Homo sapiens: one gene and its partners. The protein of the gene in region 1 purifies or fractionates together with the protein of each later gene. This does not show direct contact. Each region holds a gene or a part of one and is shown in the gene's direction. Other genes may lie near its edges. The genes, in order: SYT12, NXPE3, SEPTIN7, GMCL1, PDK3, MFAP3 and ZNF445.

The links.
Region 2: the proteins of SYT12 (region 1) and NXPE3 purify together in Homo sapiens (affinity purification with mass spectrometry; 2 studies listed by BioGRID and IntAct, with this or other methods). This does not show direct contact.
Region 3: the proteins of SYT12 (region 1) and SEPTIN7 purify together in Homo sapiens (co-immunoprecipitation; one large-scale study listed by IntAct). This does not show direct contact.
Region 4: the proteins of SYT12 (region 1) and GMCL1 purify together in Homo sapiens (affinity purification with mass spectrometry; 2 studies listed by BioGRID and IntAct, with this or other methods). This does not show direct contact.
Region 5: the proteins of SYT12 (region 1) and PDK3 purify together in Homo sapiens (co-immunoprecipitation; 3 studies listed by BioGRID and IntAct, with this or other methods). This does not show direct contact.
Region 6: the proteins of SYT12 (region 1) and MFAP3 purify together in Homo sapiens (affinity purification with mass spectrometry; 2 studies listed by BioGRID and IntAct, with this or other methods). This does not show direct contact.
Region 7: the proteins of SYT12 (region 1) and ZNF445 purify together in Homo sapiens (affinity purification with mass spectrometry; 2 studies listed by BioGRID and IntAct, with this or other methods). This does not show direct contact.

The regions. Positions count from the first base shown.
Region 1 is NC_000011.10:67,026,134-67,029,633, forward strand, and holds part of SYT12 (synaptotagmin-12), read left to right. Parts: intron 1-1,383; exon of another isoform or gene 1,384-3,500. UniProt on the Homo sapiens protein: Synaptic vesicle phosphoprotein that enhances spontaneous neurotransmitter release but does not effect induced neurotransmitter release. Unlike other synaptotagmins, it does not bind Ca(2+) or phospholipids.
Region 2 is NC_000003.12:101,820,711-101,824,210, forward strand, and holds part of NXPE3 (NXPE family member 3 isoform 1 precursor), read left to right. Parts: intron 1-693; coding exon 694-1,244; 3' UTR 1,245-3,500.
Region 3 is NC_000007.14:35,807,557-35,811,056, forward strand, and holds part of SEPTIN7 (septin-7), read left to right. Parts: intron 1-3,500.
Region 4 is NC_000002.12:69,867,660-69,871,159, forward strand, and holds part of GMCL1 (germ cell-less protein-like 1), read left to right. Parts: intron 1-39; exon of another isoform or gene 40-142; intron 143-2,059; coding exon 2,060-2,205; intron 2,206-3,500. UniProt on the Homo sapiens protein: Possible function in spermatogenesis. Enhances the degradation of MDM2 and increases the amount of p53 probably by modulating the nucleocytoplasmic transport.
Region 5 is NC_000023.11:24,471,786-24,475,285, forward strand, and holds part of PDK3 (pyruvate dehydrogenase kinase, isozyme 3 isoform 2 precursor), read left to right. Parts: intron 1-3,500. UniProt on the Homo sapiens protein: Inhibits pyruvate dehydrogenase activity by phosphorylation of the E1 subunit PDHA1, and thereby regulates glucose metabolism and aerobic respiration. Can also phosphorylate PDHA2.
Region 6 is NC_000005.10:154,045,467-154,048,966, forward strand, and holds part of MFAP3 (microfibril-associated glycoprotein 3 isoform 1 precursor), read left to right. Parts: intron 1-3,500. UniProt on the Homo sapiens protein: Component of the elastin-associated microfibrils.
Region 7 is NC_000003.12:44,453,671-44,457,170, reverse strand, and holds part of ZNF445 (zinc finger protein 445), read left to right. Parts: intron 1-1,474; 5' UTR 1,475-1,621; coding exon 1,622-2,050; intron 2,051-3,500. UniProt on the Homo sapiens protein: Transcription regulator required to maintain maternal and paternal gene imprinting, a process by which gene expression is restricted in a parent of origin-specific manner by epigenetic modification of genomic DNA and chromatin, including DNA methylation.

The DNA.
Region 1 (3,500 bases):
CAGGGCTCAACAGGTTCTAGCAGTGAATGGAAGGATGGGAGCAGCCAGGGAAGGGGCAATGCCGACTTAGCTCCAACTCCTGTTGGAGTCGGGGGATGCAAACCCATTGTCCCCATATCTTCTAACTTTCTTTTTTTCTTTTCTTTCTTTTTTTTTGAGATGGAGTTTTGCTCTTGTTGCCCAGGCTGGAGTGCAGTGGTGCGATCTTGGCTCACTGCAACCTCCACCTCCTAGGTTCAAGCGATTCTTCTGCCTCAGCCTTCCCAAGTAGCTGGGATTACAGGCATGTGCCACCAAGCCCGGCTAATTTTGTATTTTTAGCAGAGATGGGGTTTCTCCGTGTGGGTCAGGCTGGTCTCAAACTCCCGAACTCAGGTGATCCGCCTGCCTCGGCCTCCCAAAGTGCTGGGATTACAGGCCTGAGCCACCGCGCCCGGCCAGATCTTCTAATTTTCAAAGGGAAGCTGGAAATCCTTTTTAAATCAATTTTTAATGGGAAACTCTCCCCGCACACACACACACTTTTTTTTTGAGGCACAGTCTCACTATGTTGTCCAGACTGGTTTTGAACTCCTGGGCTCAAGAGATCCTCCCACACCAGCCTCCCCAGTAGCTGGGACTACAGGCATGACCCACTGCACCCAGCTAAATTTTTCAATTTTAAAATGTTGGCAACTCACTTAAATGTAAGACAAATAAACACATCTGTAGGCTGGCAGTGCTGCCCACACTGCCCAGACTAGGGGTTAGGGGGTCTGTATGGGCCATCACCAGGCTGCTAACCACAGCAACCAATATGTGCCAAGCCTGACTACACGTACCTTCTCATTCCACCCTCCTGGCAGCCTCACATCTGCTTTACAGGTGGGGAACTGAGGCTCTAAGAGACTAAGAAAATTACCCAAGGCCACTGCAGCTAGCCAGGGGCAGGTATGGGAGTCAGAGCTGGGTGCAGCTGACTACAAACCCTGTGCTCAGGATGACACCCTCTAGGAGCCTCGACCTCTCTCCCAGTTCTCTTCTCCCTCCACTCAGGCAAATGAGCTCTGCCTTCACAGGGCACCAGGCTGGAACATATGTCTGGAGGCCAGGGGCGGTGGCTCACGCCTGTAATCCTAGCACTTTGGGAGGCCAAGATGGGAGGATCATTGAGGTCAGGAGTTCAAGACCATCCTGGCCAACATGATGAAACCCCGTCTCTACTGAAAATACAAAAACTAGCTGGGCATGGTGGCTCATGCCTGTAATCCCAGCTACTTGGGAGGCTGAGGCAGGAGAATCACTTGAACCCAGGAGGCAGAGGTTGCAGTGAGCTGAGATCGCGCCATTGCATTCAAGCCTGGGTGACACAGTGAGGCTCTGTCTCAAAAAAAAAAAAAAAAAAAAAAAAAAGAAGGAACTTCTGTCTGGGGTGTGCCTAGCAGTCATTCACACCCTCACTGAAATCTCAGCTCCCTGGGAAAGGATGTCGTGTTAAAGGGAGAGGAAAGAACAGACAGCGTGGGAGTCTGGGGTCTGAGCTGGGCCAGCCATGGAGGTGATGGGGCCCCCGACAGCCAGAGGCCAGATGCAGCTTGAGGCTTTGTCCCGTACCACGCCTGTTGTGCTGTGGGGTGTACTTTGCCATGCATACCTTGCTCGCGTGCTGCGGGCATTGGCTGTCCCAGCTTGGCCCCACTCTTGCAAAGTCAGCTTGTGCCAGGTAAGCAGGAAAAAGCCGATGGCTTATCTGATTCCCGGCAAGGCAGAAGCAGGCTGGGAGGTGCGTGTGTGTACATTAGCATGTGTTTCAGCGTATCCAGACCAGCTTCCGCCAGGAGCTAGGACCACCTTGGGCAGGTACATGGTGACCCATTTGACCTGCAGATTCTTAGGAAACTTTTTGGAAACCATATGCCCACTTGCAGTGAGACACAGTGGTTAGGAGCATGGAGCCAGTTGGCCTGGGTTGAACAGTTTATTAGCTGTGTGGCCTGGGGCAAATTACGCCCTGGGACTCTCACCCGCAAACCAGAGATAATAATAGTACCTACCTCATGGGGCTGTTAGGCAAATTAAATGAGGTCAGATAAATGCAAAGTGCTTAGAATGGCGCTTGATGTGTAAGAAGGGCTCGACAAGGTTCTCTATTACTATCATTATCTCCAGCCCAGGCCCAGGAATGAGCTTCCACTCTAGTCAGGATGGGTGAAGCCCTTCCTGGCTTAGCACCACCCTTCCATCACCATGACAACGCACATCTCCTTGTGGGAGTGGGGGCAGCATCAGGAGAACTGGAAGCCAGGAGCTGGCTGTGCACCTTATCTGACCTGCTTCTAGAGGCTCCTGGGCACCTCCAGGACTTAAGGGGGTAGACTAGGACTTATGGCACCCCAAATGTGCTGGATAACCCTGACTGGAGCATGGCACCGAAGCTTCTTGACTCCAAAGCCACAGACTGGGGAGAACCCCGGAATTCCTGAAAATGTGGAGGGCCTTAGCTTTACCCTCTGATTCGACCCCAGTCCCAAAGGGAACCTACAGGATGCTCCGAGGGGTTGGGAATTGGTGGGTCACACTCCCCAAGGACTTTTTATACTGCGTCTGAATGGTGTTTGCATTTTTTTGCAAATTGGTTGCTACCTTTAAAACTCAGGAAATGGCACATAAAAAATTCAGGTATCTGGCTTTTCTTTAAAGTGCCAGAAGATCAAGCCACGGTGGTTGGCATTCCTGCTGGGGCAAAAATGCAGCTGCCCTTGGGCCAGGCCATCACTCTGCAGTTCTTACCTCCCCTTCCCCTTGCCCTACCACCCTGCACCAGGCCTGCAGGCTTACCATGTGTAACCACCTCTCTGAACTACAAGGGAATCCAGAAATTGGGGTGGGCATTATCCTGGCCCTCGGTGCCCTTGACCTGAGATCAGTGCAGCCCATCCCAAATTCCTTTTTCCAGGACTCCCACATACACCCACTTAGAACACATCTGTGAGCCAGATTTACTTCTTAGCACACTAATAAAACAATGAGCAGTCACCTAGGTTCAGGTAATGGGTTGTACGAGCTCCCAGACCTTTCTAGAACAACTTAAGCCTCAGTCATTCCTAAAAGCTGGGGGTGGAGGATGGGGTGGGGAAGAAACCATGCCAAGCAGTGAAAGGACTGATAATAGAATATTGCAGACACGCAGCCTTTCCTTCCCAATCAAAATGGAAGCATTTGAAGGAAGGCTCTGGCTCAAGCCAGGGGGGCCTTGCTCTAATGAGTCACCTACTGCGTCGCCGCTGGTCAGCCTGATGTTGTTAGGATGGAAATGAGCTGGGGTTGCCAGATTTGGCAAATACAAAAACAGGACACCCAGGAGCATTGATGTTTTGGATGAACAATGGAAAAGATTTTGGCGTAAATATGTCCTGTGGAATATTTGGGACACACATATTAAAAACGTATTTGAAATTTGGCCAGGCGCTGTGGCTCACACCTGTAATCTCAGCACTTTGGGAGACCAAGGCTGGTGGATC
Region 2 (3,500 bases), on another chromosome or scaffold:
TATCTTTTGTGGGAGCATGGATGGAGCTGGAGGCTATTATCTTTAGCAAACTAACACAGGAACAGAAAACCAAATATTGCATGTTCTCACTTATAAGCGGGAGCTAAATGATAAGAACTTATGAACACACAGAAGGAAACAGTAGACACTGGGGTCTACTTGAGTGGGGGAGTTGGGAGGAAGGAGAGGAGCAGACAAGGTAACTATTGGGTACTGGGCTTAAAACCTGGGTGATGAAATAATATGTGACACATTTTCCTATGTAACAAACCTTTACGTGCACTCCCAAACCTAAAATAAAAGTAAAAAAACCCAAACTTTTTAGACATAGATAAAAAAGATTGCAATGATCAGTGCAAATAGCAACATTTCTTGGCCTAATAATTAGAGAAAAATGGGTTATTTTGTTTTTCAGGCATAGACAGGTGTAGTGTAGAGTCTATCACTGATGGTGTTATTTATAATGAATGTTATGTTTATGTAATAATTTAAATAATAAACATGTTAGAATAAAGGCCCATTGATACAAAAGGGGGCAGAGTTCAGTGAAATAGGTATTCCCTTTACATTTATATTGTACCTTTTTGTTGTACTTAAAAAAAAATTGTTATTTGAAGCCACTTAATAAGGTATAATCAAAATATATGTGCTTGGTTTGAAGGTTTTTATGAACTTGAGTTTTCCTTGTTTCAGATTTAGTGGAGTTTAACTTGGGTAGTCCCAAGAATGTGGGTCCCTTCCTTGCAGTGGACCAGAAGCACAACATCCTGCTCAAATACCGCTGCCATGGTCCACCCATCCGCTTCACGACTGTCTTTAGCAATGAGCTCCATTATGTGGCGAATGAGCTGAATGGCATTGTGGGAGGGAAGAACACAGTGGTTGCCATAGCTGTATGGTCTCACTTCAGCACCTTCCCTTTGGAAGTGTACATCCGGCGGCTCAGGAACATCCGTCGAGCAGTGGTTCGGCTCCTCGATCGAAGCCCAAAGACCGTGGTGGTCATCCGGACGGCCAACGCCCAAGAGCTGGGACCTGAGGTGAGCCTTTTCAACAGCGACTGGTACAACTTTCAGCTGGACACCATCCTTCGGAGGATGTTCTCAGGGGTTGGAGTATATCTCGTCGATGCCTGGGAGATGACCCTGGCCCATTATCTACCGCACAAGCTGCATCCAGATGAAGTTATTGTGAAGAACCAGCTGGACATGTTCTTGTCCTTTGTGTGCCCCTTGGAAACCTAGCCTGTCTTGGAAGGGACTGGAGGAATCATATTCAATGACCTTCTCAATTGACCTGAGTTACAGAAAGTGGCCCCAGTGAGAGATGACTGCCCTTAATAAGTATAAAATTTCAAAAAGATCTGGACTTAATATGATGACTTATAAGGAGCTTAGAAAATGCAGGTTACATTTATATCTACCTATAGGATTTTATCCAATGTTGACTTAGCCATGGTAGAACTCTTAACTGCATCTACACACTATATTGCTCTTGTAACCAAAGATGCTAATGAGTGTATTTGAATTAGCTTCTCCTAGGAGGGGTGACTACTTTGCTAAAGAGTATGAAAAATGTTTTGATGGAAGGGACAAGTTTGGTTGGTAGTAGAGTGTTTGTAGCTTATCTGGTAAAGGAAATTGAGTGCATCTGCATGCATAGCACAAGTAATCCATCTTCTGGCGGTTAACTAGAGAAAGCTTATAGTCAGAGGCTCTTGTGAATGCACTGAAGACTGCTGTGTCTCAGGAGTTTCTCTTGATGATCTACCTTTTCTGAATTACTTGAAAAGGCCAATGTGCTTGGTTCGAGTTTTTTAGTGAATATTTACAATTTCCTGCTTTTATCTAGAAAAGAAGCAAAAGGGAAATATGAAAGCAGTATATATAAAATCTGTGCTTTGGAATTGATATTTGCATTTGGTGATTGTTTTTTATTTGATTCAGCTAAATTTTATGTGTTGAATACTTACTCTAGAATAACTACTTTTGGAACTGGAAGGGGGAAATCTGTAAATGGAAATTTATTTTTATGTTCTGAAATTTGAGGGTTTAGGAATTGACTTTTGTGTAAAGAATGCTACGATATTATAAAGCTGTGGAAGTTTTTTCCACTAGTTTCAGGTGTTTTTTTTTTTGTTGTTGTTGTTGTTATTTTGAACTACTTACCAAAATTAGAAGTTAAAATCTAATTAGAAATTAATAAGATACTAAAATTCATGACAGTTTTTTGTTTGTTTGTTTGTTTGTTTTTTGGTATTTCTTGATTTGGGCATAAAAGGCACACCCATTCTCTCATGCTTGGAAGAAGCTGCTATTCCTACTGGCTATCTAAGAAGAATGGAATTATTAATTTTATTTGACTTATTAATTTTAAACGAGTTTAATTTGGGATCATTTAGTAAGTACTCTTTTCTTTTTGAGCTGTGATAGATTATAGTCTAGTTTAAGTTGCTCCTAAGTAGACAGATGAAGAAACTAGGGAGGCTTTAGAGAGGAAGACAGATGCTTGAAGTATGAACAATATATACCCTTAGAAGAATGGGTCAAATAATTTGGGTTTTTAATTTAAAATAGGAGGGCCCCAGATCTTACTTTCCTGTCCTTGAGGAACACCTTCAAGTTTTTAAAGTATTTTAGGGGGAAAGAAGATTTTTAATTGTTTCTGAGCCTAATGAGGTAATAAAATATATTAAAATAGTTTAATTTTAATGGTCCTTACGCTTTACAGTACCTAAGGATCACTTGTAGTATCTGACAAAAATGCAGAATTAAAGAGTCATGGCAGGGTGTGGTAGCTCAAGCCTGTAATCCCAGCACTTTGGGAGGCCAGGCAGGAGGATTGCTTGAGGCCAGGAGTTTGAGACCAGCCTGGGCAACATAGTAAGACCTCATCTCTACAAAAAATAAAAAATTATCCAGGTGTGGGCCGACAGTCCCAGCTACTAGGGAGGCTAAGGCAGGGTGATTGATTGAGCCCAGTAGTTTGAGGCTGCAGTGAGTTATGATTGCGCCACTACACTCCCACTTGGGCAACAGACAAGAGATCTTATCTCTAAAAAATTTTTGTTAAATAATAAAAGAATTAAGGCCAGGGATGTTGGCTCACATCTGTAATCCCAGCAGGGATTATAGTCTCGGGAGGCTGAGGTGGGCGGATTGCTTGAGCCCGGAAGGTCAAGACCAGCCTGGGTGCCATGGTGAAACCCCATCTCTACAAAAAAATACAAAAACTAGCTGGGTGTGGTGGCACCACCTGTAGTCCCCGCTACTTAGGAGGCTGAGGTGGGAGGATTGCTTGAGCCCAGGAGGCAGAAGGTTGCAGAGGTTGCAGTGAGCCTTGATTGTGCCACTGTACTCCAGTCTGGGCAACAGGGCAAGACCCTGTCTCTAAAAAAAAAAAAAAAAAAAAAAGAGGGACCATGATGCCTCTGGGATTTATGAAACCAACCTTTGTGGCGAGTGCTCAGTGATTCTGATGCAATGGTGGTATTCCACACT
Region 3 (3,500 bases), on another chromosome or scaffold:
GTTTCACTGTGTTAGCCAGGATGGTCTCAATCTGCTGACCTCATGATCCGCCCGTCTTGGCCTCCCAAAGTGCTGGGATTACAGGCGTGAGCCACTGTGCCCTGCCAATTTTTGTATTTTTAGTAGAGACAGGGTTTCTCCACATTGGTCAGGCTGGTCTCGAACTCTCGACCTCAGGTGATCCACCTGCCTTGGCCTCCCAAAGTGATGGGATTACAGGTGTGAGCCACCGCACCTGGTTGCTTTTTAAAAATTTTATTGGGAGGTTTTTTGTTGTTGTTTTGTTTTTTTGAGACGGAGTCTTGCTCTGTCACCCAGGCTAGTGGCATGATCGTGGCTCACTGCAACCTCTGCCTCCTGGGTTCAAGTGATTCTCCTTCCTCAGCCTCCTAAGTAGCTGGGATTACAGGCACATGCCACCACGCCTAGCTAATTTTTGTATTTTTAGTAGAGACGGGGTTTCACCATGTTGGTCAGGCTGGTCTCTCCTGACCTCGTGATCTGCCTGCCTTGGCTTCCTAAAGTGCTGGGATTACAGGTGCAAGCCACCGCACCCAGCCTGGTTTTTTTTGTTGTTGTTTTTTTTAATAGGTAATATAATCACTTGGTTCAAAATTCAAAAGGTTAAACAGAGAGATACAGTGAAATCTCCTTCTTACTTCTACCCCCAAGTCACCCAGTTTCCTAGTCCTCGGCATCCTGTGTTAACAGTTTCTTGTATGTTCTTCCAAAGGTGTTTTTTGCATATGGAAGTTAAAAACATTTATCCTTCCTGCCCCCACCCTTGGTAGCATTAAGACACATTATTTCCCACATGTTTTTTTCCAATGAGTGTAATTTGGGTTATTCCGTATCAGTACATAAAGAGCATTCTTATTCTTTTATACAGCTGCATAACCGTTACATGATATCTCAGTCTGTTTGTGCTGCTCCAACAAAATACCTGAGACTGGGTAATTTATAAGGAACAGAAATCTATTTCTTACCATTCTGGAAGCTAGGAAGTCTAAGATCACAGTGCCAGCAGGTTTGGCGTCTCTGCTTCCAAGATGGCACCTTAAATGCTACTTCCTTTGGAGGGAACAAATGCTGTGCCCTAACATAGTAGAAGGAGCAAAAGGGTCAAGCACCTCCCTTGCACCTCTTTTATAAGGTCATTAATCCTATTAATACCATTACTAGTGATTAAGTATCAACATACAAATTTTGGGAGAACACATTAAGACCATAGCATATGGATAGATCATGATATGGGATATATTTTGATTTGTTTAACATGTCTGCCTCTGATAGACATTAATTTCCAGTGTTTTGCTATTACCAACTTTGACATGGTGAGTCACTTGGGATATTGATCTCTTCACATTTGTTAGTGTATCTAACAAATACACTAACTGTTAGTTTTTGAACTCTTTGAAGCAGGAGACTACCACTTAAAAGTTGTAGTATTGACATTGTCATTATATCAATAATGTATTGATGTTATAGTATCATAACATTGATGTTAAGTATTGGTAATATTGCTGTTAAGTCATTAGTTTAGAACTTCAACAATCAAGTTCATTCACTTAACAAATACACGTTTTGTACTTGCTGTGTGCTGGCCACTGGGGAAACTGAATTAAATGCTGTGGCAGTTGAAATAGAGGCATGGTGATTAAGAGTTTTCGGATCTAGAGTCAGACTTGGATTCATATCTCAGTTCTAAAGCTTAACTGAACCTTTGGCAAATAACAGAACTTCTATTTTTCCTTCTCTGTAATGTGGGAATCATAAGGTTATTGGAGAAGTAAATGAGATAGTACATGACAAATCCTTAGCATGATGCCTGGCATATAATAAACACTGAGATGTTAGCTTAAAAAAAGTTATCAGACTATATTGCAGTTGACTTTATGTTCTGCCTCCACTGTGCTTAAAGTCTAGGCCTGTGTTTTGTTCACCTTTGTGTCCCCAACCCATAACTGGCTTGCATTTAGTAAAAAATTTGTGATACGATATAAAGGTATGCAGAGCATACAGTGAAAGTTCAAAGCAGGATACCTTTTCCATGCTGGAGAAGGTGAATCTTTGAAAGTCGGTAGGAGTGATTAGGTAAAGGAGGTGAAGGAGTAAAGATAATTATTCTAGACTGAGAAATTATGTTAGTATCAGGTTATGAGGTTAGAAGAGGTAAGTAGGCAACTGGTATTGCTGTGCTGAGAATTTAAAAATCTTTATTGAAGGCTTTAAAAGAAAAGTGGTAATCGTAAGAATCGTGATGATAATTCTCTCTGTTGAGAGTTGACAGGGCACCAGGTTGGAGCCATTAAATTGAAGGAGTTTAATGTAGCAGTTTAGGACTAAAAATTGGTCAGAAGCAGGGCAATGGGAAAGGACATGAGGGGGATGGTTGTAAGGTGTTAGGGAAGATGTGGGTGGTGAGTAATGAGTCCAGAATATTTGAGCTTTCTGACTTGAGTGAATGGGTAGATGAATAGATGCTATTTCTTGAAATAGGTAATTTGAAACATGAAATTGAGAGGCCTGGGGGACATCCAAGTGGACATGTCTTGTAGGGTCTCAATACTAGGAAGACATCTAGGATAGAAAATAAACATTTTCTGATAATTGTAAATGTATTCATTTGTGCTTTGAATTTTTATGTTTAGTAAGTGAGTTTGTGAACAGAGTTGAAGGAAATTACAATAAAGTGATTTGTGTGAAACTTCGTTGTCCTTCAAATATAGACTGAGGTCTCCAGTTTCTGGGGTAGTACTAAAATGTTTCCTTTTTTTTTTTTTTTGAGATGGAGTCTTGCTCTGTCACCCAGGCTATAGTGCAGTGGCGCGATCTCAGCTCATTGCCAGCTCCGCCTCCCACGTTAACGCCATTCTTCTGCCTCAGCCTCCCGAGTAGCTGGGACTACAGGCGCCCGCCACCACACCTGGCTAATTTTTTGTGTTTTTAGTAGAGCCTGGGTTTCACCGTGTTAGCCAGGATGGTCTCAATCTCCTGACCTCATGATCCGCCCGCCTTGGCCTCCCAAAGTGCTGGGATTACAGGCGTGAGCCACCGCGCCCAGCCAGATGTTTACTTATTTAAAATTTCAGCTGGTACGTTTCACAGCAGCAGTTGCTTCAGACTCAGGGTTATGCTAGTGTTTCTTTGCAGGAGTGACATTTTGTATCCTTATATATTGTTATTGTCCATTCAGATTGTAATGAGTTAATGAGTTTTTTTTTTTTTGAGACAGAGGCTCGCTCTGTCGCCCAGGCTGGAGTGCAGTGGTGAGACAGAGGCTCACTGCAACCTCCACCTCCCTGGTTCAAGCAATTCCTCTGCCTCAGCCTCCCGAGTAGCTGGGATTACAGGCACATGCCACCACGCCTGGCTAATTTTTTTGTATTTTTAGTAGAGACGGGGTTTCACCATGTTGGCCAGACTGGTATCGAACTCCTGACCTGAGGCAATCTGCCCACCTTGGCCTCCCAAAGTGCTGGGATTACAGGCATGAGCCA
Region 4 (3,500 bases), on another chromosome or scaffold:
ATGTTAAACTCACCTGGCTAAACCCCAACTCTTGTCAAGGGTTGCACTCCATGCCTGCATCCAGACAGATGAATGTGATTAAAGACAAACACCGTACCCCATTGGGTTCCACTTGAATGTGGTAACCATGAACTTGAAGTAGGTTAGTGCTGCATCATGATCTGTCTGCATTTTCCTAGTGAATTGATCCTCCCATTAGCTGAGGTAACTCATACCTTCTCTCCTTAAAAGGGCAATGCTCCCACCCTTATTCTTATCTGATGGCCTTGCTGCCTACTGCAATGAAAAGAGAATCTGTACATCATCTTACCAGTAGTTCTGCCAGTCTACCTGCACCTGTAGCTATGCGCTATGCATTTCATCTTATTAGAAAAATGAACTGCCTACTTCTATCTTAGTCCATTCCCTCTCTTTGTACTGGACTCTATCCATGCTCACCTATTCAAAAGCTTTGCTCCAGCCAGGCACAGTGGTATGCACCTGCAATTCCAGCTACTTGGGAGGCTTAGGTGGAAAAATTGCTTGAACCCAGGAGTTAGAGTTCAGCCTGGGCAATATAACGAGACCCTGTCTCTTTAAAAAAAAAAAAGCTTTGCCCTTACAGTTATCACCTCTACTAGGGCAGAAACTGTATGTTATTTACTGCTATGATTCCATTGCTTAGAGGAGTGCCTGGCATATAATATGTGCTCAATAAATATCAGTTAAATACTGAATTGCAATTCAGGGTGTCAGCCAAACACTTGAAGCCCTAACTACTTCTCTGTATCACACTACCTTATCTGATACTCTCACATTAACTATTAGCTGATAGAATAAACAAACTCGTGAACCCCATGATGATATTTAAATAACCCAGTTGTGTGTTACTTGAGTTAGAGTATTTTATTTTTATTTTTATTTTTATTTTTTTTTATTCTTTTTTGTATTTTTAGTAGAGATGGGGTTTCGCCATGTTGGCCAGGCTGTTTTTGAACCTCAGACCTCAGGTGATCCACCCGCCTCGGCCTCCCAAAGTGCTGGGATTACAGGCGTGAGCCACCACACCCAGCCCTTAAGAGTATTTTTAAAGCAAGGTGGATTTTAATGGGCTCTTAATTACCTTAGTGCTCTAGAAACTCTTAGTGCTCTAAGCTATATACCCACTTAGAGTTGCAGTGAAAAGCCTTATTATTGCTGGGTGCAGTGGCTCACGCCTGTAATCCCAGCGCTTTGGGAGGCCGAGGCGTGTGGATCACAAGGTCAGCAGTTCAAGACCAGCCTGGCCAACATAGTGAAACCCCGTCTCTACTCAAAATACAAAAAAAAAAGGCCGGGCACAGTGGCTTACACTTTGTAGTCCCAGCACTTTGGGAGGCCGAGGCGGGCGGATCACCTGAGGTCGGGAGTTCGAGACCAGCCTGACCAACATGGAAAAACCCCGTCTCTACTAAAAATACAAAATTAGCCAGGCTTGGCGCATGCCTGTAATCCCAGCTACTCAGGAGGCTGAGGCAGGAGAATCGCTTGAACCCGGGAGGTGGAGGTTGTGGTGAGCCAAGATCATGCCATTGCACTCCAGCCTGGGCAACTAGAGCAAACCTCTGTCTCAAAAAAAAAAAAAAAAAAATTAGCCGGGCGTGGTGGCAGGGACCTGTAGTCCCAGCTACTTGGGAGGCTGAGGCAGGAGAATCGCTTGAACCCGGGAGGTGGAGGTTGCAGTGAGCCAAGATCATGCCACTGCACTCCAGCCTGAGTGACAGAATGAGACTCTGTCTCAAAAAAAAAAAAAAAAAAAAAAAGCCTTATTATTTATGGTAGAATTGCAGTATGGAGAGATAAGGAAACTGATCATGAAGAGGAAAGTAGCTTAGAGAATTATGATCATTAAGGGCAGCTTTTCTAGCTTAGATAAATAGTTTTGGGTGGTAAGCCTTAAGAAAAAGTCACTGACAAAAAGTCGACCACCCATGAGGGAAATACTTGGAATGAGTTAGAGACAAAAAGACATTTTGAATTTTTTATTTTCTACTTGCTAATATGATAAACTGAAATAAGTCTTCTCTCTTGTATTTTTTAGTACTGCTGGCGTTGGACAGGTTTTAACTTCGGCTTCGACCTACTTGTAACTTACACCAATCGATACATCATTTTCAAACGCAATACACTGAATCAGCCATGTAGCGGATCTGTCAGTTTACAGCCTCGAAGGAGCATAGCATTTAGGTAGGATGAGATTTCCCCACCCCACTCCTCCTCACTCCAGAGAAAATATAAGAAATAAAACCTTGATAATTTACACCAACATTAGTAGAACTTTGGTAAGCTACAGTATATGTGGAAGTGGTAGGAAATGACGAGGCTCCATTCCTGTGAAATCTATTGTTAGTAATCAGAATCATAGGATCTAGTATGTCAGGGAGAATGAATAGGCTGGAATATATACCAGTAGGGAATATCAGCCTTGAAGTCGTTGCCTTGTTGCTATTCCTAGCAAATAAAAGATCCAGACTGTTGAAATATGTAGCAAGGTATGTTTCCAGGAAAACACATATTATCCTTAACTTTTTAAAGGATTTAATATGTTAAATTTTGCCCAGTAGTTGCTGGCAATCTTTTTCTGAGAGGATACCAGAAGCTGACAAATTGGACAGTAGCTTAATGAACATGATTTAAAAGTCATATATTTATACTTACCTTACACCAAATACAAAAATTAACTTAAAATGGATCAAAGATCTAAGCATAAGAACTGCAACTATGAAACTCTTGGAAGAAAACATAGGGGAAAAGCTTCATAACAATTGATTTGGCAGTGATTTCTTCCATAAGACACCCAAGCACAGGCAACAAAAGAAGCAGTAGATAAAATTGGACTTCATCAAAATCACAAACTTGTGTATCAGAGGACAGTGTCAAGACAGTGAAAAGGCAACCCATGGAATGAGAGCAGATATTTGTAACGCTACATTTGATAAGACATTAATACCCAGAATATATAGAAAACTCCTACAACTCTATAATTTAAAAAGAAAACTCAACTCAGCTCAAAAATGGGCCAAAGACTTCCATAAACATTTCTCCAAAGAAGATATATAAATGGCTAATAAACACATGAAAAGATGTTCAACATTACTAATTAGGGACATACAAACCAAAATCACAATGAGCTATCACTTCACACCTATTAGGATAGCTATTAGTAAAAACAGAATAGAAAAAAAACAACAAAAGTAACAGGTGTTGGCAAGGATGTGGAGTATTTAGAACCCTTGTGTACTGCTCGTGGCCATGTAAAATGGCACAGCCACTATGGAGCATGGTATGACACTTCCTCAAAAAAATTAAACAGAATTACCATATGATCCAGCAGTTTCTCTTCTATAGACCAGAAGAATTGAAAATAGGGACTTAAACAGATATTTTTGTATACTTATGTTCATAACAGCATTATTCACAATAGCCAAAAGGTGGAAGCAACCCACATGTTCACTGACAGATGCTAGAGAAACAAAATGTGG
Region 5 (3,500 bases), on another chromosome or scaffold:
ATTAGCATTAGAGTGCTGCCCTTTTACTAGTTGAAGGCTTTTTGGCCTGGATTCGTCCTTATTTGACATTGAGATCTAGTTCCCTATTTTCTTGTTTACATTTCCTGGGATAGCATTGCCATCCTTTTATTTTCAGTTTTTCTGAATTACTTCGCTCTAAATATGTCTCTAAATGTAGTGTAAAGTTGGGTTTTGCTTTGTGAATCAGTCTTTTTCATGTGGTAAGTTTAACCTATTTATACTTACTGGTATGATAGATCTGTCATCTGTAATGATAAGCATTTGTAATTTTCTGTTGCTTTCTGTTTTTAATACCTCAGTTTTCCTATGTTATATATTTGCTTTGTTTTGCCATATTTATTTTAATAAATAACTAGGCTTGAATTTTTGGTTCTAGTGGTTATCTTTATAGTTATTACTTTATTTCTATAGACCTTTGTCCCATATGGGTCACCACTTGTCAGCCAGGAGACCTTTGAGCACTTGAAATGTGGCTAGTGTGGCCGAAAAACTGAATTGACTTAATTTAAATTTAAAATGGATACTTGATGCAGTTAATTTTTACATCTGTGTAGAATAACTTGGATATGGAATCCACTTTATCACCTGTAAATTTTAGGAAATCTCTTTATAGGTCAATTATTTCTGATAGAAATTTAGCCTCTGAATTGAGATGTGCTTTCAGTATAAAATACACACTGGATTTCAAAGACTTAATATAAAAATAGTAAAATATCAGTACATCTTATATTGATTGCATGTTGAAATGGTAATATTTTAGATATGTTGGGTTAAATGGAATATTATCAAAAACTTTATTTCTTTTTTATGTTAATGTGGCTACTAGGAAATTTTAAATTATATATATGGCTTACATATTTCTTTCTTTCTTTTTTTTTTTTTTTTTTTTTTTTTTGTGAGACGGAGTTTTTGCTCATGTTGCCCAGGCTGGAGTGCAATGGTGCGATCTGGGCTCACCGCAACCTCCGCCTCCCAGGTTCAAGTGATTCTCCTGCCTCAGCCTCCCAAGTAGCTGGGATTACAGGCATGCGCCTACATGCCCAGCTAATTTTGTATTTTTAGTAGAGATGGGGTTTCTCCATGTTGGTCAGGCTGGTCTTGAACTCTCGACCTCAGGTGATCTGCCCACCTCAGCCTCCCAAAGTGCTAGGATTACAGGCATGAGCCACAGCCCCTGGCCTGGCTCACATATTTATATTGGACAGTGTGGCTTCAGATAATATATGTTAATTCCTTATTGGGAGCAATGAAAACATCACATTTTAATGTTCAGAATAAACATTTATTGGCTGGGTGCAGTGGCTCACGCCTGTAATCCCAGCACTTTGGGAGGCCGAGGTGGGTGGATCACGAGGTCAAGAGATTGAGACCATCCTGGCCAACGTGGTGAAACCCCGTCTCTACTAAAAATACAAAAATTAGCCAGGCATGGTGGTGGGCGCCTATAGTCCCAGGTACTCGGGAGGCTGAGGCAGGAGAATTACTTGAACCTGGGAGGTGGAGGTTGCAGTGGGCCAAGATTGCGCCACTGCACTCCAGCCTGGCTAGAGTGAGACTCCGTCTCAAAAAACAAAACAAACAAACAAACAAAAACAAAAAAACCAACCACACATTTGTTGAATTTATTTATTTATTTATTTACTTATTTGAGACAGAGTCTCACTCTGTCACCTAGGCCAGAGTGCAACGGCTTGGTCTTGGCTCACTGCAACCTCTGCCTCCCGGGTTCAGGTGATTCTCCTGCCTCAGCCTCCCGAGTAGCTGGGATTACAGGTGTCTGCCACCACGCCTGGCTTATTTTTGTATTTTTAGTAGAGACGGGGTTTTGCCCTATTGCCCAGGCTGGTCTCGAACTCCTGACCTTAGGTGATCTACCCGCCTCTGCCTCCCAAAGTGCTGGGATTACAGGCATGAGTCACCGTGCCTGGCCTGAATTTATTTCCTGAAATATAACTTTCACATGTCTTGTTCCATATTTTTTTCTATAAACCTCTCTGGATTTTTGGATCAATGTATTGTTTTTGACTGGCAGTTAATGTTATGGTGGCTCCTTGTTATATTTGCACAAATTTGAGTTCTCTTTCCCTTAAGCAGTTGTGATAAATTAAAAATTCTCTTAATTATATAAGAAAAGGAGAACTTGGACTATTATGGCATAAAGATAGAACCTTCTGAATGTTGAATGAGTTGGTAGGAAATGATTCACATTTTCTTTTGGACTTGCTTTTCATCTTTCAGTCTCGCCCTGTCGGCTTCTGGTTCCCATATTAACCACTTTTCTCCCCTCCCTGCAGACTGACGTCCCATTTGTTTGATTTTCCAGTTACTTTTGCACAGCCACACTTGCATTAAAGAGATTTTGCTCCTGCCTCCTTTTCTTAGATTTTATCCTCAATTGTCTCTTTCCAAAGGGCAGGCGCTCACCTCTTTTTTGTAACCTCTTACAGCTTCCTCAGCTCAGCTTGCTCTGCACAGAGCAGGTGCTCCATAAATGGCAATTACTGATGGCATGCCTGACTCCATATCGAGGTTATTAAACATTATGCCACTTTCATTTAGTCAGTTATATAAGTTTATTTTATTTATTTATTTATTTATTTATTTATTTATTTATTTATTTATTTTGAGACGGAGTCTCACTCTGTCGCCCAGGCTAGAGTGCAGTGGCACCATCTCGGCTCACTGCAACCTCCGCCTCCCAGGTTCAAGCAGTTCTCGTGCCTCAGCCTCCCGAGTACCTGGGACTACAGGCATGCGCCACCACGCCCGGCTAATTTTTGTATTTTTAGCAGAGACGGGGTTTCACCGTCTTGGCCAGGCTGGTCTCGAACTCCTGACTTCAGGTGATCCACCCGCCTCTGCCTCCCAAAGTGTTGGGATTACAGACGTGAGCCACTGTGCCCAGCCAAGTTTAAACTTCCATAGTGTCCCCATGTGTAAATATAGCATCTCTCAAAACCACCAGAAAGCAGATTGCTGATAGCCCTGCCGTCTTTTCACAAAACTAAATATTTTGATTTCTGTCATAATCACACCGGCTCTGTGAACCTCAGAGCCTTTAGCTCTTAGAAGGTAGCGGCCAGTTTCCGCATTCTTACTATTCTTAAAGTTTAAGGGCCCAGCCATCTTCTTTTCCTTTAGAACATATTTTAAGATACTTTGGAGATACTTTGGTTCCAAATGACTCCCTTTCGCAAAGTCTTGGCTTTTTAAGTCATTTTGCTCCTTGAAGCCTGATCACCACTGGGGACAACAGTGATTGCGTTCTTGGAGAAAATGGAAAGGTTTTTAAAAAAATTATGTTAGGAAAAGGGAAAAACAATCTCATTCTGCTTCCGAGTGTGTTTATTTTGTACCTTTACATATGTAAATGACAGATTTTTTTTTTTTTTCCCTGTAAGCAGTAGTTTTTCTGCTACAAGGTGTCACCAAGAATTAGACCAACCTGTTTGGAGAAAGGGATCAACTATTCAGAATTA
Region 6 (3,500 bases), on another chromosome or scaffold:
TCCCCCCAACCCCCAAGATTTTTAAATGGTTGCATGGTATTCTGAGTGTTTTATAATGATGTAACTATCAAATGTAAATTTTAGTTCAATATCTGAAAGAACCATGAACAATAATAATAGAGCTTATTCAGTGATTACCATTGCCAGACTCTGTGTTTTATGTATACTACCTCATTCAGACTTTGCAATAATCCTGTGAGAATAGATTCTGTTATTTTGCCCATTTTAAAGATGAGGGGCTGAGGCAGGGAGATTAAGTCATTTATAAAAGTTGCAAGGCTGGTTAGAGTCACAGATCGTATTTGAATCCTATACTCTGAACCTCTCTGCTACCCTGCTCTTATTAGAGACCTTCAATTTTGCTGATCTAGAGTAATCTAAATCTAGAATGGAATGTGAGTGATTATATCTCTCATTGGAAATATTCAAATAGCCTGAAGCACCATTCTGCAGGTCAGTTGCAGAGGAAATTGAGGAACTGTATTAGTGGCCCTTAGATGCAGTACATGAATCCAATGCCTCAGAAACACCCAGGGAGCCAATTAAAAGTCATAAATTCCAAGGCGCAAACACAGAGTTTCTTACTCGTTCTGGGTTGGGACCTGGGAATCCATATTTTTAAAAAGCTCTCCTGACAGTTGTGATATTCAACCTGGTTTGGAAACTGCACTTGGTGATCTTTTATTCCTACCATTATCCTCTAGGACAACATGGTAAATGAAGGTATCAGGTTGGGAGTCGGAAGAATGCATTTAATTAGGTACTTTTAAGGTCTTCCAAGATTGTTAGCATTGACTGTTTTTGTTTCAGAGAATTTATAATAGGCAACTGTATGTCAGTTTGAACAATTATAATCCCTGTTGCATAACATTATTCAATTTATAAAGATCTGTCACATACTGAATCAAATTTAAACTAATCTCCATCAATATTTATTGAGCATGTGCTAGTTATGACGTACAGCAATAAAAAATATAGGCCTTGTTCTTAAGGGGTAGTTGAGATGGGATAGACTGCCTAGCAGTACAGAGCAGCATATACCAGCGCCAGATGAGTACGGTAGGTGGGGAGGGCTCTGGGGTGAAGGAGAAGCCATCCTTTATACAGCTATACTCTGAATTTATGTAGGAGGAATAGCTAAGGCCTTGATAGGAGGTTCAGGAAGTTTGCGGGAAGGCAGAATTCCATGTGGGAGTTATGCTTTGCCAAGCCTTGTGTTGGTGAGGACACTCATTGCCCTGCAGCCCTCGCCTGTGACAGCTGTTCATTCTGCTGAAGTTCCTGAATCTCAGAGCAGGAAGACCGAATCCATTTCCTTTCTTTCCAGTTTCTTCTACACTAGCTACTTTGATCCTGGGGGGATGTGACCATACCCCCAGGTGATCTGCCCACGTTTGAGCCTCTCAGTTGTTTGACGTCTTCATCATGGACGAATATCTCCCTCACTCACTTCAGCCACTGCAGCTTCCGGAGTCTATCTCCAGTTTCACCATTGGCCCAGTTAGTTCTCCTCCAGAATCAGGAATCAGACGCAGCATTTTTGGCCACTGCCTGTCTTTACCACAATTTTTTAGCTGTTTTTTGTGAACAACTCCTGACCAGTGACCCCTCTCATTTTTCCCTGTCTCCTGGCCCTCTACCTTGAGTGCTTTCCTCCCAATTTTTATTCCTCTTTATTCTTCAGGTCCTGCACCTGAAGAATAGGTGCTGCACACCTCTTTTTCTCAGAGGCTTTCCATGATGAGATTAACTCCCCATGTTGGGTCCTCCTGTAGCATCTGTATTTTCCCTTGGGTAACATTGAGTTTATTTTGTATATATGTAGTTAGTGTCCATCATCTGCCAGACTGAACTTCGTGGAGGCCGAGACAATGTCTATGGGGCAGTAGGTAGGCACATGGTAGGTGCTCAATAGATACTGTTCAGTATATGAAAATGTATCCCTCCGATCTCAAACTCAGTGGTGGGGAAGAGTAGAAAGGAAGGAGATGGCAGGTTAAGAAATGAGGTGGCATTAAAATAAACTGGAGTTGTGGGGGGCTTTTTGTTTTGGTTTTGGTTTTACTACAGAGAGAGCAAGCCTCCAGCTCAAAGCCTTTCAGCAGGCAGTAGTATCTCTGGAAGCTAATAACACTTCTTTGTTTTCATTATGTTTATGTGTACGGTTACATTTGTCCACAGAACTGATGTAGAGTTTCCTTTTTAAATAAATGTGAAAGTAAAAATAAAATGAGTTGATTTAAAAGAAAAGCAGAAATGACGATAATTTGGTTCATGGATATAGTAAAAACAACAACAACAAAAAAGACAGGAGAAGGAATGAATGAAGTTTGGGAAGTGCTGCCCTGGATGAAGCTATAGGAACTCCTAATCAAAGTTCTGGAGAAAGCCTGGAGCATTTTTTCAGCACACTCATAGCCTGTCACCGTTGAGAACCACTAATCTAGAATAAAGTACAAAATTATGTCCTCCAATTGCTGTATATCTTGCAGTGAAAAAGAGCTTGGAAACTTACATGTCAAGCCCCTAGCACAGTGCTTGGCTGATGGCAGTCATTCAATAAATGTTATTTCCATTGTTTCTACCCATCACCCCCTCTTAAAAAAGAGACTGTATTCCAAACTAGATTCTCCTACTAACTTGTAGCATGTCGTAAGAAGCAAATCACTGTGCACTGAATCAATTAGATTATATTACTTCCAAAATCCCCTCTCTGCCTAAGTCTTTGTTTCCTTTAGTGTCCTTTTTGTGCGGTTTTAGGAGGAAATGGAAATAAACACGTTTAGTGTGTCATGTATTGCCAAAGTCTGAAGGTTTTTTATTTTACTCTGTATACCCCATCCTTAAATTGTAAAGATTTAGAAAAGTATTTGTCACCATTCAACCATCCTTTCAAGGGTTAATTAATGAAAATTAAATGACATTTGCACCGTATTGTAATTTAGACTTTGAGATATTTAATGGCAAAATACAGTGATTCATTGTTTTTTATGTTCTGTGATCAAGCAGCCTTCATATAAATATAAAGGAGAGTAAATGTCATTTCCAAAACTAATTATCTTGGTGCTTTATAAGACATAAAGCTAGGCATTTCATCCCATATTTTATAGAAATAAAAGTTGAATTTTTTCTTTGAGAGTTGGTGGCTTAAAGGGGGAGTCAAATTACCAGGAAGGTGATCATAAATACATAGACTTTTGGACTAGGATGTTATTTTGCCTTTTATTCAAGATATTTTGCTCTTCTTTTAAATGTGTCTAACAATCTGTCCCTGTAGTTTTATATTTGCATTTCTACTAACTAGACACTTAAGATGTCAGTTCCTCCCTTAGCTAGTTTACAGAGTTTGAGCTAGAAATTTGGTATGCTTACAAACTATTAAATACACTGTACTTTGTCTCTTCGTATTGGAGAAACTATTAAAAGAAAATTCTGTTGTCTAATGTTCTTGCCCATGAAGGAGGTTCCATAGCTTTAGAAGTCAATAACTCTATTTATGT
Region 7 (3,500 bases), on another chromosome or scaffold:
GAGCCCGAAATATACTCCAGATAGTCCCTTTTTTGAGATGGAGTCTCGCTCTGTTACCCAGGCTGGAGTGTAGAGTGCAGTGCCACGATCTTGTCTCACTGCAAACCTCTGCTTCCCAGGCGCAAGCAATTCTTGTGCCTCAGCCTCCCGAGTAGCTGGGATTATAGGCACATGCCACCATGCCCAGCTAATTTTTTGTATTTTTTGTAGACCTGGAGTTTTGCCATGTTGGCCAGGCTGTTCTCAAACTCCTGACCTCAAGCAGTCCGCCCACTTCGGCCTCCCAAAGTATTACCTCCTGAAAGTGACTTGAACCCTTGGACACCACATTTTATGATGAATTATAAAAAGAAATACAAGAGTTGAGTGGGAAGCTGGATTAGTAGTTTTCAAATTATAATTTGTAACCCATTGTTGGGTCGTAAAATCAACTAGGGGATTGGATTCTCAGGATTTTTTTGTTTTTGTTTTTGAATTGCTCATTTGAGATATTTTAAAATATTATAATAGCAAAATCACATTTGATATTTAAAAAGTCAGTTGGGCATTCTTGTGTGGTTCTGTTTCTGGTTTTTCTATTTTATTCCATTGACCTATGTGTCTCTTCCTCCACCAGTACTACACAGAATTGATTAATATAGCTATAAGTCTTGAAATCAGGTAGACTGTTTTCAGACTGATCCCTCCCAATTTATTCTTCCTTGTCATAATTGTTTTTTGGTTTTGTTTGTTTGCTTGCTTGCTTGCTTGTTTTGAGACAGACCCTTGCTCTGTTGCCCAGGCTGGAGTGCAGTGGCACGATCTTGGTTCACTGCAACCTCTGCCTCCCGGGTTCAAGTGATTCTTGTGCCTCAGCTTCCTGAGTAGCTGGGATTACAGGCACGCACCACCATGCCTGGCTCATTTTTTGTACTTTTAGTAGAGACGGGGTCTTGCCATGTTGCCCAGGCTGGTCTCGAACTCCTGAGCTCAGGCAATCCTCCCACCTCCGCTTTCCAAAGTGCTAGGATTACAGGTGTGAGCCACCATGCCTGACCTGTCATAATTTTAGCTATTCTAATCCCATTGCCTTTCCACATAAATTTATCTATGTCTACAAAAAATCTTGTTGAGATTTTGGTAGGATTTGCATTAGACCTGTAGATAAATGTGGAGAGAATTTACATCTTTACTGTGTCACATCTTCCAGTACATGCATACGGTATGTCTGTTCATTTATTTAGATCTTCTCTGACTTTTTTCATCATCCCTTTGTGTTTTTTACGAAGTTTTAATGTATAAGTTCAGTATATGTTTTATTGTGGGGTATTTTCTTAGCTTACTCCAATAGGGGACAGCCTAGCTCTGGTCTACTTGATACTGGCATATACCTTTGTGCAAACGCTCTTCTTATATATACAAAGATGATCCCAACCAGCAGAATCCAACTGCACCATGTATAATGGACATTATTCTCTCATCCCCTCCTGCACAGAAATGCTGGTAATTTCAGTCACTTGCTGATGACTTCTGATGTCCCAGCAAATGTTGGCATTGTTGACTGCTGAGAAGATACTTCTGAGGACCCACGTCTAAGGTGGACTTGGTTCGCACTCTTCTGGTTAGTCCCTGAACAGGAGTGATGCCTCCAGGCAGGTGGCATGCTGCCTATCCAGCTCAGGCCCAGTCTTCGAGGGAGCGAGGGCGGCTTCAGACAGTAAAGAAGGAAGAAGAGGATGAAAGCTATACTCCAGTGCAGGCTGCCAGGCCACAGACTCTCAACCGCCCTGGCCAGGAGCTGTTCCGCCAGCTCTTCAGACAGCTTCGCTACCATGAGTCTTCAGGGCCCCTAGAAACTCTGAGCCGGCTCCGGGAACTCTGTCGCTGGTGGCTGAGGCCTGACGTTCTCTCCAAGGCACAGATCCTAGAGCTGCTGGTGCTGGAACAGTTCCTGAGCATCCTGCCTGGGGAGCTCCGGGTTTGGGTGCAGCTTCATAACCCTGAGAGTGGCGAGGAGGCTGTGGCCTTGCTGGAGGAGCTGCAGAGGGACCTTGATGGGACATCCTGGAGGGTGAGTGTGAGCAAGTGTGTGGTGCCCAGGGAACTCTGCCTGCTAGTGAGCCAGCTTGTCTGGGGATGGGGGTGGCCCTCTAAACTGTCAATATAGAGGAGTGCAGGGGAAGCCTTCCTTTCTTCCCATGGTACCTGAGCAGCTGAGAACGGGACCCTGAGCCACGGACCCTTTAGCAGGTATCCTTTCCTACCTTCCCAGAGGAATATCAGCTCCAGATAGGGTCAGCAAGTCTCCATAAATAACAGCAACTTCTGGGCACAGTGGCTCACACATGTAATCCCAGCACTTTAGGAGGCTGAGGTGGGAGGATTGCTTGAGGCCAGGAGTTCAAGCCAGCCTGGACAACATAGGAGGACCCCCCCACACTGTCTCTATACATAATTTAAAAATTAGGCCAGGCATAGTGGCTCACACCTGTAATCTAAGCACTTTAGAGTCCAAGGTGGGCGGATTGCTTGAGTGCAGGAATTCGTGACCAGCCTGGGCAACATGGCAAAACCCTGTTTCTACAAAAATTAGCTGAATGTGGTAGCATGTGACTGTAGTCCCAGCTACTTGGGGGACTGAGGTGGGAGGATCACTTGAACCCAGGTTAGGTCAAGGCTGCAGTGAGCCGTGATTGCACCACTGCGCTCCAGCCTGGGTGACACAGCAAGACCCTATCTCTAAACAAAAAAGCCCAGTAACTAGTCTTTGGACACAGTGGCTTACAGTATACAAAGTCCATCTCCACATATTATCTAATTTGACTTGAGACTAACCATAGCCCTGTAAAGTGGTGGGTGTTGGGACAGCATTTAGGGTTAGGGCTCTTGGCTTCTCAGTGGGAGAGTACATGTTAAAACTCAGAAGAGCGCTCTGCAGGCACCATGTAGCTTCCTTCTCAGTAAGCTTTTTTTTTTCTTTTCTTTTCTTTTTTTTTTTGAGGCATACCCCACCACTCCCAGCTAATTTTGTTTGTATTTTTAGTAGAGATGAGGTTTTACCATTTTGGCCAGGCTGGTCTCAAACTCCTGACCTCAGGTGATCCATCCGCCTTGGCCTCCCAAAATGCTGGGATTACAGGTATGAACCACTGTGCCCAGCCCTTCTCACTAAGCTTTTGAGGACCTTTTCTATGTGTGTGAGATGGGAGGCAGGGAAGATGGTCATGAGTGCTGAGGGGCAGAGCTGGGCTGAGAAATAGGAAGACCTCGATTTTAGACTTCATTCCACAACCTCAACATCTGTGGCCACATAGTTGTACCTTTCAGAGCCTCTGTTCGTTGAGAAGAAAATGCAGAAATGGTTTAATCGTGAGAATTTGTTCGGTAAATATTCAAGTGCTTATCATGTGCCTGGCCCTGGCAGAGTTGGCAGTCCCAGGCCTGGCAGGAGAGCAGCAGCTGGTCAGTTCAAGTGCGTTCGTTCTTCCTGCCCTTCTCCTGCACACAGGGGAGCTGATGCT